2 separate regions of the Homo sapiens genome follow, and region 1 is linked to region 2. The links come from fine-mapping of genetic effects on gene expression. A gene starts in region 2. The other region holds a variant in brackets. All regions are shown on one strand. Distances are between the middles of the regions. Region 1 overlaps NCMAP (non-compact myelin associated protein). Region 2 holds the start of NCMAP (non-compact myelin associated protein).

Region 1 (2,906 bases), 28 kb before region 2:
CTCGGAAGACCAGGATTTCCCTTGTCACTCATTTGCTACCTGATCCTGGAAAGTCCTCTCCCTTCCCTGGACCTTGGTTTTCCTGCCTGTAAAATAGCCCAGTTTGGAGATCATCTCTAAGGGCTTTTCCAACCAGTGATTCTGTTACATGGAACTGTTCATAGCTTCACAAGAACCAGTGTCTTCCAAAAGCTTATTCTTCTTTGTAGATATGGACTCAGGGGATGTGAGGAGAGGGAAGTCAGCGTGAGCACATCACTCTGGAAAGCAGCGATCCTTCCTAGAAGGCACTAGAGACTGGAACAAACCGAGGCAGATTCCATGAAGGGGCTTTGATTTGGCAACAGCAGTGCACAAGAAAGGAAACCCGGGAATGAACTTCCAAGCACTCTGTAGGGTACATAGTCACCCGAGCCGCCTGAATCCTTCATGGCCATTTCCTTCACCCTCTATTCCTCTTGGATCCCTTATCATAAGCTCCCCACCCCGTCTGCCCTGTCTGTTCATGGCTCTGTGTATCACAGCTCCCAAAGTTGGGGTAGGAATTCTGCCGTGTGCTCCCCTGAACTGGAGGCCATACACAATTACATACTGAACATGTGTTCCTTGTAGTTGGTTCCCAGAAATAAGGGAGCACATTTTCTGCTCCATTTACCCATCTATTCTTTCATCCTGCTATCCACTCATGCCCCCACCCACCCACCCGCCCACCCACTCACTGGGCACACAGTCCTTCCACCCGTTCTTCTGTCCATCTGTCCTCCCATCCATTCAATCAATGCCCACCCTGTGCATAGGACTGAGAAGACGCAAAGAGGGCCGTGGGTCTGTTTTAAACCAAAGAACAATACATAAATAAATAAAATAAAAACCAAAAAACCAGAGGGGCCAAGGGGATTATGTCCTGAGGAACTCAGACCGAAAGAATGAGAAAAGGAATTGTTTCCTTTCAGAATCTTTTCTTCAATCACATGTACTGGGCATCAACCCCACCCCACCGCCCACCCCATGCCTAGCCCAGCACTGACCACAGAAAGGTGCCTGATCAATATCATACTGCAGTCCTATGGCAAAAGC[C/T]GCAGCCTGTGGCTCCAGAAGTCTGGGTTTCAGGCCCACCACACACAGACTTCAGGGGAAGTCTTACTTCCCCACCCTGTCAAACGGTGGCTCAGATGTCCTTTGCTCTGATTTTTGTGACCCACATTGTAAGAAAAGGGGACTCCAGGAGCTTCTAACCCAAGACCTGCAGATATGATAAGCTGAGTGTGCTAAGAGTTATAAATAGAAACCCCAGCTGAAAGTGGTCACAAGGCTTACTTTGCTGGTGCCAAAAGGGTGGCACACACAGTGCCAGAAGTCGGTGGGAGGAAGAGACCCGTGGACATTGTGGTGGAGATTGACTGAGAGCTAGAATGTGACCTGTGGCTTCCGTCTACCTCTCAGTCTCTGGGCTCAAGCCAAGGACCCAACTCTTGAGAGTCCTCGACCTCCATAGGAGCTCCCATGTAAATCTCCAGGTGTCCCGCTGTCCCTGTGGGGCGGGGGGAGGGCACAGGGTTAATGGGTTTATGCCCCTCAGTGAATATGTCAGAGGATAATAATGCCACCTCGATATTCTAGGCCAGGAGGGAAGGAAGCCCACACTCAAGCAGACCCTATGCAAGTGCCAGGCACTGTGCTTTCACATGCTTCCCCATTCAATCCACACAGCGAGGCAGGTCTTTTCATCTCCACTGTGCTGATAGGAAACGGAGGCTCAGAGAGGTTAAGGGACTTGCCCAAAATCTAACAGCAGGTCAGTGGAGGAGCTGAGTCTCAAACTCAGATCTCCTACTCCAAACCGTCCTCGGCAATCCTGGTCCCCGGGAGGTAAGCAGTATTCCTGGGGACACTCTGATGGTCAGTGACCCTGCTAGGGAAGGATTCTGCTCACCTGCTCACTTTTTTTTTTTTTTTTTTTTTCTGAGACGGAGTCTTGCTCTGTCACCCAGTCTGGAGTCCAGTGGCGTGATCTCAGCTCACTGCAACCTCCACCTCCCGGGTTCAAGCAATTCTCCTGCCTCAGCCTCCTGAGTAGCTAGGATTACAGATGTGCGCCACCACACCTAGCTAATTTTTTGTATTTTTAGTAGAGATGGGGTTTCACCCATGTTGGCCAGGCTGGTCTCGAACTCCTGACCTCAGGTGATCCGCCCGCCTTGGTCTCCCAAAGTGCTGGGATTACAGGCATGAGCCACCGTGCCTGGCAACTCTCTGCTCACTTTTCTTTCTACCTGTTGATATTTTGAGCCCAAGAGGTACAGCCAGGCCTCAGAGTATGGCAGAGTTTCTCATCCTTGGTACTACTGACATTCAGGCCAGGTAATTCTTTGGTGTGAGGGGCTGTCCTGTGCATTATAGGATATTCAGCACCATCGCAGCATCCTTGGCCTCTCTGCTCACTAGATGCCAGTAGCATCCCACCAGTTAGAACAACCAAAAATGTTACAGGACATTTCCAAATGTCCTTGGGAGACAAAATTTTCTCTGCTTGAGAATCACTGGAGTAGAGCTATTTGGCCTGCCTCTTAACAGTTTCCTATTCTCCCTATCCAAGAAGAACTAGATAAGAAGGAAAATGTCCAGTCTGTTTTCATACCTGTGGATAAACAACCAATAACCATGATGATGACGACGATGGCGATGACCAAAAGCACAATTACTGCCATTGATCAAGTGTCTTTTACGTGCCAGTTACCATGCCAAGTACTTTGTATATGTTTTCTCCATATATTATTCCTATTTTACAGACATAGGAGCTGAGGCTCAGAGAAGTTAGGAAACTTGCCTGAGGCATCTGTGCTGATACATGGCAAAGCTAGGATCTATACGTTTCCTATTGCTGCTCTAACAAATTATTGCAAATT
Region 2 (2,906 bases):
CCCACAGAGCCCAGCCAGTTCCTCAAGCCCAGCTCACTATATGCCCAGCTCACCGCACGCGCCGCGGCTGGCTGGCTTGGCACCATGCTGCCTCCCCACAGCTCATCTCGGCCCCAGCCAGCACAGAGCCCAGCAGGGACAAGGTGAAGAAAGCCACAGGCCATGAAGGGGTCATGGGAACCCCCTTCCCATTTCCTCCTCCCCTCCCACCAGGCATTCATGGTCCTTTGGTGTCTCTTGGCTGCCCTTCTGTCCCCTCTCCCCACTTAGAGGACATGAGTAAAGGTATTGGCCTACCTAGAGTTCCTGCCCCATCATCCACTCCCACGGGCTGATGGGACTCAGGATTCCAGGGTATTATGTGCCCTCTTCTATCCCGGTGCTCTGGCTGTGCCTGTCACTTTCTACTACCACCACCAACACACACACGCACACACACGCACACACGTGCACACACCCACATGCACACACATGCACACAAGCGCACACACACACACATGCACACATACACACATGCACCATAAGAGGGGGTGCCTATAATCTGTTGCTCTTGGCTTCTGCTTATAACTGTTCCATCCACCTAGACCACTGTCTCTAGTATCCATACCCACCTCTTAGAACCAGCCATCTGTAAATTCACTATTTGTGCCAAGCATTGTACTTCATATGCATTCATTCATTCATTGGACAAATATGTATTGAGACCTACTGCATGCTGGGCACCGTGCTGGTGCTGGGGATACAAGGGTGAACCAAATAGGCATCATCCCTGCCCCCAAGCAGCTGCTAGCAGACATTAATAGCTCATGTTCATTGAGTGCCTACTATATACCCACCCTGTATTAAACACTTTATGAGTTATCTGATTTAATCTGTCAGAGAAATTGTTTCATTTAAGGAGCACATCAAACTGAAACATAGAGAAAAGTGTGGACTTGCCCGAGACTGTTGGACGGCCTTGGCTGAGGGGTAAAGCAGGGACTCCAAAGCGCTGCCCTAACCACCACCTTTCCTTTCCCTGCCCCACTCAGATGCCACCTCCTCCAAGGGGCCTTCCAGAATCTTCTCCCAGACTCAAGGGCTGCCTTGGTCTCTCTAATCCAGCCTTCATATTTGACACAGCCATCTCCTCCCACAAGGATACCCAGAGGACTGGAGCCGTCTCTGCATCCTTCCTCAGGAGCGCTGCTGGATGAGCGACCCCCGAGCCCCTCCAAACGTGCTGTGGATGGAAACTACGGCCCTGGGCTCCTTCTCTGCCGTGGGTTTTCATCTCGCTGAATCGCAGATCTTCCGGAGGGGCCTCTGCATAGGGCAGACCCATCAAGGCGCCCATTTAACAGATGGGGCGGATAAGGCCCCAAGTGGGTAAAAGTTCCTTTATCTCCAGGCCGGGTCAAGGTCGACTCCCTTTTCTTCCAGCGAGCCTCGGCCCCTCCGCCAGATGCTTGGGTGGGGAGGGGACAAGGAAACGACCTCGTCTCCAAGACCCACTGGAGATGATCAGCCTCCCTCCCACCACCCCGGACCAACGCCCTCCCGCGCAGACCCCAGGCACTTCCTCCAACAGATGTGGGGGTGAGACTGGGGACCCCTCGTCCCCACCCCCGGGCCCTCCTTCGCCCAGCGCGGCCGGCAGGTGGACAGGAAGCCACCGCACCTGGGCCGGACCGCTCCTCGCTCCCCGCAGCCCCGGGCAACCCCGGCGACCAGGCGCCTCCTACCTGCTCTGTCGAGCCCCGCTCGGCCTCCCGCCGGCACCGCCGCGCTCCCAGCCAGGGTCCCCGCCGCCGCCCGGCGCTGCCACCCTGGGATCCCGCCCCCGCCCGGGGCGTCCCGCCCCCGGCCCCGCCCCGTGCAGGTGATCCTGGGGAGGCCGGAGAACGCGCCGGGGGTGCCAGGGTCCCGCACACTGGAGTGGCGGCGCCTCCCCGTGGTGTCCCCGCTCCTGGGTCCTTTTTGGGACTGGCTCTGGCACTCCCGGGCACTCAGTCCAGTAGAGAAGTCCAGCAGGAGGCTTCCAGGTCGGACTCCTCCGCGGGGTAAAGAGAGGGAAAGGGCCTCACAAACACACCCAGGTGAGCTCCAGGCACTTTGAGTAGGGTCTTTAAAGGAGCACGGCGCTAATCTGATTGAAGGTTTTGAGGGGCAGCTGGAGATTCAGACAACCACAGAACGTTAGACCGGGAGGAAACAGGCTTGGCAGCCGGCAAGTGTCAAGAACTCTTGCCGCTGTAGGATCAAAGGCTCCTTCCTCCCCAGGCTGTCGAGATTCCAGCTGTATCCCAGGAGCCCAGGGCGATATCCCTGGCAGGCAGCGGGTACTCAATCAATATTTATAGAAAGCGGGAAGAGATCTCGGAGAGGGGATCTCTTCTCTCAGAAACAGGGAAGCTGAGGCCCAGGAAGCAAAGGTGAGCACAAAGTCTTATAGCAGGTTAGTAACAGTATCAGGAGTGGAGGCTGGTTTCCCGGTTCTATTTTCAATTGATTTCCAGAAAGTGATTGCATCTGGGCCGACTGCCTTGCCGCTCAGTGCCTGTGAGATGCTTTCAAACTCTCCTCAGCTAAGAACTAAGATTTTTATAGGAAGAAAACACGTATTTTTATAGGAAACTCCAAGGTAGTATTTATTTATTTATTTATCTTTGAGACAGGATCTCACTCTGCAGCCCAGGCTGGAGTGTGGTGGCACAATCTCGGCTTACTGCAACCTCTGCCTCCTGGTTCAAGCGATTCTCTTGGCTTAGCCTCCCGAGTAGCTGGGATTACAGGCACATGCCACCACACCCGGCTAATTTTTTTGTGTGTGTATGTATATATATATTTTGGTAGGGACAGGGTTTCACCATGTTGGCCAGGATGGTCTTCAACTCTTGACCTCAAGTGATCCACCAGCCTTGGCC

Evidence for each region. PIP is the estimated chance that this variant, and not a neighbour inherited with it, causes the effect. A credible set is the group of variants that fine-mapping cannot tell apart.
Region 1: its variant is the best candidate, but not a certain one, in a credible set for the expression of NCMAP in pancreas (GTEx, PIP 0.53).

The regions. Positions count from the first base shown.
Region 1 is chr1:24,582,774-24,585,679 of GRCh38, reverse strand. All of the region lies in intron 1 of NCMAP (non-compact myelin associated protein), which reads right to left. Among named protein-coding and RNA genes, the nearest start is that of NCMAP, 28 kb to the right of the region's middle. The variant C/T (reference allele first, on the strand shown) is at 1,078.
Region 2 is chr1:24,554,988-24,557,893 of GRCh38, reverse strand. It overlaps NCMAP (non-compact myelin associated protein), which reads right to left and starts at 1,807. Exons shown (of 4, transcript NM_001010980.5): 1 at 1,725-1,807. NCMAP-DT (NCMAP divergent transcript) reads left to right here and starts at 1,870. Exons shown (of 3, transcript NR_109781.1): 1 at 1,870-2,078.